Regions from separate parts of the Homo sapiens genome. Here region 2 is linked to region 1. Evidence: fine-mapped expression QTL. A gene starts in region 1. The other region holds a variant in brackets. All regions are shown on one strand. Distances are from middle to middle.

Region 1 (4,386 bases):
CCGAGTAGCTGGAATTACAGATACCCGCCACCATGCCTGGCTAATTTTTGGATTTTTAGTAGAGATGAGGTTTCACCATGTTGGCCAGGCTGGTCTTGAACTCCTGATTTCAGGTGATCAGGTGATCCACCCACCTCAGCCTCCCAAAGTGCTGGGATTGCAGGCGTGAGCCACCGCTCCCAGCCCAGGAAATATTTTTACTAATTGTGTGACTTCAGGCAAGTTACAGAACCTCCAGAAACCTTAATTTCCTCATCAGTTATGGAAACAAGATGTACCTTATAAAGAATGTGTTAGCATTAAATGTGATTAAGTGATGGTACATTGCTTGACTCGGAGGTTCCATCCATGGTAATAATTGTAAGTACACTAATATATGTATATATACGTAATACACAAACAAATGTAATACAGTGTCTGTAGACATGCTAATATATGTATACAAGCGTAAGCATAGACGTATACCAAGGTCAAGCCTGTAGTCAGTTCTCAGTCCTCATCTGAGCTCATCAGCACAGGCTGTCCCTCCCTCCTTGACTCTCATCCTTTACTAGGTTTTGGGGACATTCTGCCCTCAGGGTCTTCCACACCTGCAAGGGCCCCTTCTCTTTTTCCTTTTTTCCCCTTTGCCCCAATCCCTAAATGCCACAGAGTTCAATCTTTGACCCCATTCTCTTTCCAATCAACAAGGGGCCTACCCAAGGTGAGAGCAGTGGGACCTGAGGCCCAAAAAGACTGGGCTGGAAAATGGAACAGGTCCCCCAGCATCCCAATGTGCCCGGAAAGGACGACACTCCAGGGGGAAACACCTCCTGCCACGCCCTGGTCTCCAGGGGTGAGCATCCAGGGTACTAGGGCAAGCTGGCTGCTCCCAAAGGCAAGATGGTGCCTCCTACAGGCAAGATGGCAGCCTCCACGGAGGAAGATGGCGGCTACCTTCCACCCACGACCCCGGTCAGCTGCTGCCCGGCCCACCTTGTGCCCACCTTGTGCCCACCTTGTGCGGCGTGTTGACCACAGAGAGGTTGTAGCCGTACTGGAAGGCTGAGCCAAAGGCCGCGCTCAGTGTCGCCAGCAACAGCGTCGGCTGGAGCCGCTGTAGGAGACAAGTCCAAGGTCGGGACGCTGTGGGCTTGGGCCTCGGGAAGTGGAGTGGCTGGGCCTCCACCTCCCTCCAGCCTGGGCTGGAAGTGGGGGATGGGGGATCCCAGGCCGTGCCCCCGGAAAAGAGGAGGAGGTGGCGCAGGGCTGGGGCTTTTGGGGGCTGAGGTCTCTGCACGCATTCATTCCCTCCTTGAGGATGTATCTGAGCATCTGCTACGTGCCTGGCCCTGTACTAGGCCCTGGAGGCCAAGTGTGAAGTAGGGGATGCTTTAGGAAAAAGGCCCAGCAAAGCACTGCCTTTAAGAAGCTCACTTTCTAGTGAGGGGAGCCCACCCCGTCCAAGAAAGACAAAGATGATAATTCCAAATAGCTAGAATGCTGTGAGGACAATAAAATAGGGTGATGGGTGGGGTAGCAGCCTGTGAGGAATGAGAGACTGTGTTCAGTAGGGTGGGCAGGGCAGGGAAGGCCTCTCTGAGCAGGCGCCCTTTGAGCCGGGACCAGAATGGATGAGAGGGAGCAGCTGTGTAAGCATCGGGGGGAAGAGCATCCCAGACAGAGGGACTCATTGCTTGCCTCTGCCTCTAGAACAGGCCCTTAGGAAAATCCCGGCAGTCGCCTGTGCTCAGGGCCAGGCTTTCCATGGTTGCCACAACACCCAGGGCAGCTTGGAGGGGAACTGGCCTGAGGGCCAAAGTCTGAGGAGCAGGTGGGCAGGGTCTCTGACCATGTCCTAGAGCCAAGGCCCTGGTGCATGCCCCCTCCCCACTGCCCCCTCCACCCCTCACTCCTGTTCCACATGTCCTCACCCCAACCCTCACACTTAGCTGCCTGGCTGCCCACAGCCCGTAGCTCTGCACATCCAGGAACAACCAGACAGAAGGGCAGGATTCGGGCATTCTTCAGAGGCCATCTCCCCTCGATCTTTAAGGGTAGGGGAAGCGGAGGGGAGCAGGGGTGGAAGGGAGAGAGGCATCTCCAGCACCATCCGCTCTCCCAGCATTCGCTCAGCCACCCTGGCCCATGTCTGAGCCATGAGGTTTGAGCATAGCTGCTTCTCCACATGGCTCTCCCAGGCCTGGTTATCCTGAAGAAAAAGGAAGCACGCTACCCGCTCCTTGCTAAAAGCATTCCACGGCCTTCACCTCCCTCCACAGGTCTGCACAGCTGGTGGGAGAGGGACAGTGACAGGTTCCTAGTCTTGGCACTTACCCCCTCCCTGGATGGAATGGGTGGAGGGGTTCCCGCCTCTTTGTTCTCCATCCTTGTTCAGGTGGGAGAACAGGTGTGCTCTACCTCCCAAGTGACACCTGCTCTGCGCCAGCCACCTAAAGACCGGCTGTTTCTCCCCTGGGCCTACCTGGCTTTATGATCCTTTTGCTCTCTGGACCCTGCTGACTTTCCCCAGGAGCAAATTCTCCTTGGAAATGTTGATAAGACACACGTTGCCAGTGCACAAATCATACACAGCACGAATTTCGTCTTTGCACCCACCAAGCCCCAAGCCGAAAGCTCCCTAGTTGCACCAAGGAGAGAGAAAAAACATTGCCTGACATTGGTCCGCAGAAATGAGGACTTTCAGAGACCCAGTGAGGCTGTGACCTGGATCTAGGATGCTTTTTCTGTGTCATTTTTCCATGTATGCCTCTTTTTTTTTTGAGACAGGGTCTTCCTTTGTTGCCCAGGCTGGAGTGCAGTGGCGCAATCTCAGCTCACTGCAACCTCGGCTTCCTGGGCTCAAGCTATTCTCCTGCCTTAGCTTCCCAAGTAGCCGGGATTATAGGCACGTGCCGCCACACCCAGCTTTTTTTTTTTTTTTTTTTTTTTTTTGAGGTGGAGTCTCGCTTTGTCGCCCAGGCTGGAGTGCGGTGGCGCAATCTCAGCTCACTGCAAGCTCTGCCTCCCGGGTTCACGCCATTCTCCTGTCTCAGCCTCCTGAGTAGCTGGGACCACAGGTGCCTGCCACCATGCCTGGCTAATTTTTTTTTTGTATTTTTAGTAGAGACGGGGTTTCACCGTGTTAGCCAGGATGGCCTGGATCTCCTGACTTCATGATCTGCCCGCCTCGGCCTCCCAAAGTGCTGGGATTACAGGCGTGAGCCACCGTACCCAGCCTTTTTTTGTGTGTTTTTAGTAGAGATGAGGTTTCACCATGTTGGCCAGGCTGGTCTAGAACTCCTGACCTCTAGTGATCCGCCTGCCTTGGCCTCCCAAAGTGCTGGGCTTACAGGCATGAGCCACCGCACCTGGCTTTTTTTTTTTTTTTAACTTTTATTTTAGGTTCAGGGTATATGTGAAGGTTTGTTACATAGGTAAACTCGTGCCACGGGGGTTTGTTGTACAGATTATTTCATCACCCAGGTATTAAGCCCACTTCCCAGTGTTTGTTTGCTGCTCCTCTCCCTCCTCCCACCCTCCAGCCGGAAGTAGATCCCAGTGTTTGCTGTTCCTTTCTGTGTGTTCCTAGGTTCTTCATATATGCCTCCTCTTGTGCATTTGGACTAATTGTCCATTTGGGGGAAAGAACAAATTAAACACTTTCAGAAAAACACAGTTATTATTTCTAATTACACTAAATAGTGTTAAATAAGTCAATAAAATATTGGACAAAGGTGCTTATTTCAGAATCATTTCTACTAGCATTTTTTTTTTAAAGTAGAGAATGATTGAATAAATTAGGAGTAACTAATTGATTGGAATGCCAGACTTCTGTTTCAAAGGATAATTATGAAATGTGGGAACATGGAAACATTAACATGTTTTTTAATTAACATGACCTTTAAGAGAAGTGATCAAAGCAGAATACACATAGTATACCTGGGGAAGGCCAGGGTGCGGTGGTTCATGCCTATAAGCACAGCACAATGAGAGGCTGAGTGGGTGGAGGATTGCTTGAGCTCAGGAGTTCAAGACCAGCCAGGGCAACATGGTGAAACCTCATCTCTACCAAAAATACAAAAATCAGCTGGGCATGGTGGCATGCCCCCGTGGTCCCAGCTACTTGGGAGGCTGAGGTAGGAGGATCACTGGAAAACAGGAGGCTGAGGCTGCAGTGAGGCATGATCACACCACTGCACTCCAGCCTGGGTGATAGAGCGAGAACCTGTTTCAAAAAAAAAAAAAAAAAAAAAAAGGATACCTGGGGGAAAATGTGTTTGCCCATGGGTGGTAACAGGTGGGTAAATGACAAGACTGAGAGAATGAAAGGTCCTTATTTATGTTTATCCTGCTCCTGCTCCTGACTATGTTGTAGGTATTTTCTCTCTCTCTCTCTTTTTTTTT
Region 2 (4,386 bases), 24 kb before region 1:
GGCCCTGGGCTCACTCAGCCCACACTCTGGTGATGGCTTCTTCACTGATTTGCTCTCATACCACTAACTGGCTTACTATGAGACCTGGACACTCCCTTCTGTGGACCACAGGAAAGGCTGTGGGAACAGAACTCCAGCAGGGTGTGTGACCCAGGAGGGAGGCATTCTTATTCGGGGGAGGAATCACATGGACTCCTGGAATTCCTGGATGAAGACACCTGGGCTGCCTCAGCCACAGGACCTGCTGGAGCCACACCTTGGACCTGCTGGGGACTCAGTCGTTGGTGCAGGGCTCTGTACAGATCCAGACAGAGAATGGGCCCAATGGAGACTCTGGGATGAGCGTGCAGGGGACGCAGCTGTCAGATCCATTTCTAATAGCAGCCATGAAGATGAACCCTGACCTTTGTGAAATGCTTCGTACTTACCAAGCATTTCCACCCGATTTATGTGAGGCAAAGATTATCAGCCTCAATTTAGAGACATGCAAAGTAAAACTAAAAGACCTTAAGTAACTTAAGGACCGAATTGGTGAAAAATGTGAGACCCAAAGAAAGATATTGAGGTGGGTTTAAACTATCTCTGCAAATTTTTTTGACACTCCTCTATTCAAAAGGGGCCAGGTGCGGGGGCTGACTCCTGTAATCTTCAGTGCTTTGGGAGGCTGAGGTGGGAGGATTGCTTGAGCCAAGAAGTTCCAGGCTGCAGTGAGCCATGATTGCCACTGCACTCCAGCCTGGACAACAGAGCGAGACCCTGTCTCTAAAAGGGGTGGTCTAGGCTGGGCACGGTGGCTCATGCCTGTAATCCCAGCACTTTGGGAGGCCGAGACAGATGGATCACCTGAGGTTGGGAGTTCAAAACCAGCCTGGCCAACATGGTAAAACCCCATCTCTACTAAAAATACAAAAATTAGCTGGGTGTGGTGGTGCGCACCTGTAATCCCAGCTATTTGGGAGGCTGAGGCAGCTGAATCGCTTGAATCTGGGAGGCAGAGGTTGCAGTGAGCCGAGATTGTGCCACTGCACTCCAGCCTGGGCAACAGAGCAAGACTCTGTCTCAAAATAAATAAATAAATAAAAATAAAATAAAAGGGGTGGTCTAATTCTCAACACAACCATCCCCCCTGCCACTATTGTGGGCCGGAGTGACTGACTAGCATCTAGCAAACAGCATGTGACTTTCCTGGTGTGTGTGTGTGTGTGTGTGTGTGTGTGTGTGTGTGTGACTCTGTCTCCCCCTGCCCCATCACCCCCAGGAATCCAGTGCCCCAGGTGTGAGGAGCCCAGGCTGAGTGTCAGTTTCACTGCCCTCCAGCACCAGCGATCAGAAGCGGAAGAAGCCTCTAGACAGCTCTGCTCCTGGGCCTCCGAGTCTTCCAGCTGAAGCCCCAGATGTCAAAGGGCAGAGAGAAGCCATTCCCACCGAGTCCTATCTGAATTCCTGACCCACAGGAACCAGGAGTCACAATAGCTGTCATTGTTTTAAGCCACTAAGTTTGGACACTACAGGGCAACAGGTAAACCTATAATTAATATGCAAAGTGACAAGCATGCCAATGGAAAAAGATGCACGGTGATTCCAGGGCCCAGAGGTGAGAGGACCTCCCGCTGGACAGGACAGGAGAGGTTCTTCAGGCTCATTCGAGCTGGGTTTTGAAGGCTGGGTAGGGCTGTGATCGTTTGGAGGGAAGGCACATGAAAGCACGCCAGGGAGAAAGGCACAGAGGATTGGAAGTACTTGGGGTGGTGGCAGGAAACCCACGTTATGACAATACGGTTCCAGCCTTATCATCTCGAGTGATAGAATCAGCCTAGGATTCCAGCAGGGAGTGACATGGTCAGGCCTGAATGCAGGTGCTATTTTTTTTTTTTTTTTTTTTTAGACAGGGTCTCACTCTGTCACCCAGGCTGGAATGCAGTGGCATTATGGCTCATTGCAACCTCTGCCTCTCGGGCTCAAGCAATTCTCCTGCCTCAGCCTCCCAAGCAGCTGGGACTATAGGCGCACATGACCGCACTGGCCAATTTTTGTATTTTCAGTAGAGACGGGGTTTCATTGTGTTGCCCAGGCTGGTCTCGAACTCCTGAGCTCAGGTGATCTACTCGCTTCAGCCTCCCAAAGTGCTGGGTTTACAGGTGTGAGTCACCACGCCCGGCACTGCACCTTGTTTTCAAGGAAGATATCAACTTCCCCATTGGAGGGAGAGGAGGAGAGAGAGTGGACTGGGAATGGTCTTACTCCCTTGCCTGTGGCCCCTGTTGTGGGGGGAAGAATGAGAGATCAGACTGCTACTGTGTCTATGTAGAAAGAAGTAGACAGAAGAAACTCCATTTTGTTCTGTACTAAGAAAAATTCTTCTGCCTTGAGATGCTGTTAATCTGTAACCCTAGCCCCAACCCTGTGCTCGCAGAAACATGTGCTGTGTTGACTCAAGGTTTAATGGCTTAGGGCTGTGCAGGATGCGCCTTGTTAAAAATGTGTTTGCAGGCAGTGTGCTTGGTAAAAGTCATCGCC[A/C]TTCTCCATTGTCGAGTACCCAGGGACACAATGCACTGCGGAAGGCCACAGGGACCTCTGCCCAAGAAAGCCTGGGTATTGTCTAAGGCTTCCCCCCATGGAGATGGCCTGAGATATGGCCTCGTGGGAGGGGAAAGACCTGACCGTCCCCCAGCCCGACACCCGTAAAGGGTCTGTGCCGAGGAGGATTAGTGAAAGAGGAAGGCCTCTTTGCAATTGAGGTAAGAGGAAGGCATCTGTCTCCTGCTCGTCCCTGGGAACGGAATGTCTCGGTATAAAACCCGAGCGTACGTTCTGTTTACTGAGATAGGAGAAAACTGCCTTATGACTGGAGGTGAGACATGCTGGCGGCAATACTGCTCTTTACTACACTGAGATGTTTGTGTAAAGTCAAACATAACTCTGGCCTATGTGCACATCAAGGCACAGCACCTTTCCTTAAACTTATTTATGACACAGAGCCTTTGCTCACATGTTTTCCTGCTGACCCTCTCCCCACCATTACTCTATAGTCCTGCCACATCCCCCTCACCAAGACAGTAGAGATAGTGATCAATAAATACTGAGGGAACTCAGAGACCAGTACTGGTGAGGGTCCTCCGTATGCTGAGCGCCGGTCCCCTGGGCCCACTGTTCTTTCTCTATACTTTGTCTCTGTGTCTTATTTCTTTTTTCAGTCTCTCATCCCACCTGACGAGAAATACCCACAGGTGTCGAGGGGCTGGCCCCCTTCACCCTGTGATCGACAGGACAGAGCTGGGCACGCAGGCTGGGATTCACGGTGCAACCTGCAGCCACGGGGTGGAGAAAGGAAGCCACGTCGCCAGGAAGGCAATGGCATTCAGAGCCTTGGACTCCTTAATTGATGCAATGACGGCAGCTCGGGTATCCATAGCAATTGTGGAACTTGAAAAGTTTTACTTTAAAAAAGTGCATCTATACATCATTTAAATTTTGGTGCCAATGTAGAATCGGAAAATCGAGTCTTAACCAATCAAAATTCACGTGCCGGCCCCTTCCTCCAGGTCATTCCTCAATGGCTAGCCTTGGAACTTCTCAGCTAAATATGCATTGTTGTGGGTATTTAATAATATCCATAATTAAGTTAAATGGGGGCAACGACAAAAGCCTCCGTGCTATTATCCTCCCCAGAGCCTGGGGCCGGGAGGCCCATTGTCATAGAAGGAAGCCTTGAATATGGGCTCCCGTCCTTCATGCAGGGCCACTAAAAGGAAGTTTCCTTGGCAGGAGAGGCTGTGGGAGGCCCAGCATCAATGGTTTCTTCTTTCTCCTCTGGAAGCTTCACCCTGTTTCTCTTGGCAAAAATGCGGTTTATCTCCACAAATGTTTTGCCCTTGGTCTCCGGAATAACCACGTAGATGTAAATCGCAGTGAGGAGGCAGATTCCGGCAAAGATGATGAAACTGTAGGCACCGATGGCCTCCTAGACCAGGAGACGAGAAAGACAGGAGGGGGCAGAGAAAGGCAACAGTGCTGATTCAGCTGAGCACGTTGGCTCATGCCTGTAATCCCAGCACTTTGGGAGGCCAAGACAGGTGGATCACCTGAGGTCAGGAGTTTGAGACCAACCTGGCCAACATGATGAAACCCTGTCTCTATTAAAAATACAAAAATTAGCTGAGCATGGTGGTGTACACCTGTAATCCCAGCTACTTGGGAGTCTGAGGCAGGAGAATCGCTTGAACCCAGGAGGTAGAGGTTGCAGTGAGCCAAGATCGCGCTACTGCACTCCAGCCTGGGCAACAGAGCGTGACTGTCTCAAAAAAACAAAAACAAAAACAAAAACCCCAAAACAAACAACAAATAACCAATGCTGGTCGAGGCCTTTGTGAGTCCATAAAGGAGTTG

Direction of the effects. Alleles are on the strand shown, and positions count from the first base shown. SD is a standard deviation of normalised expression in the study named.
As copies of A replace C in region 2, the expression in prostate of the gene that starts at base 2,445 in region 1 goes up (moderate effect, 0.57 SD a copy in GTEx).

Evidence for each region.
Region 2: its variant is fine-mapped to the expression of SLC2A7 in prostate (GTEx, PIP above 0.99).

Annotation. Positions count from the first base shown.
Region 1 is chr1:9,023,979-9,028,364 of GRCh38, forward strand. It overlaps SLC2A7 (solute carrier family 2 member 7), which reads right to left and starts at 2,445. Exons shown (of 12, transcript NM_207420.3): 1 at 2,317-2,445; 2 at 998-1,096. The coding sequence starts at 2,367.
Region 2 is chr1:8,999,558-9,003,943 of GRCh38, forward strand. It overlaps SLC2A7 (solute carrier family 2 member 7), which reads right to left. Exons shown (of 12, transcript NM_207420.3): 12 at 3,416-3,961. The coding sequence ends at 3,743. Among named protein-coding and RNA genes, the nearest start is that of SLC2A7, 25 kb to the right of the region's middle. The variant A/C (reference allele first, on the strand shown) is at 2,518.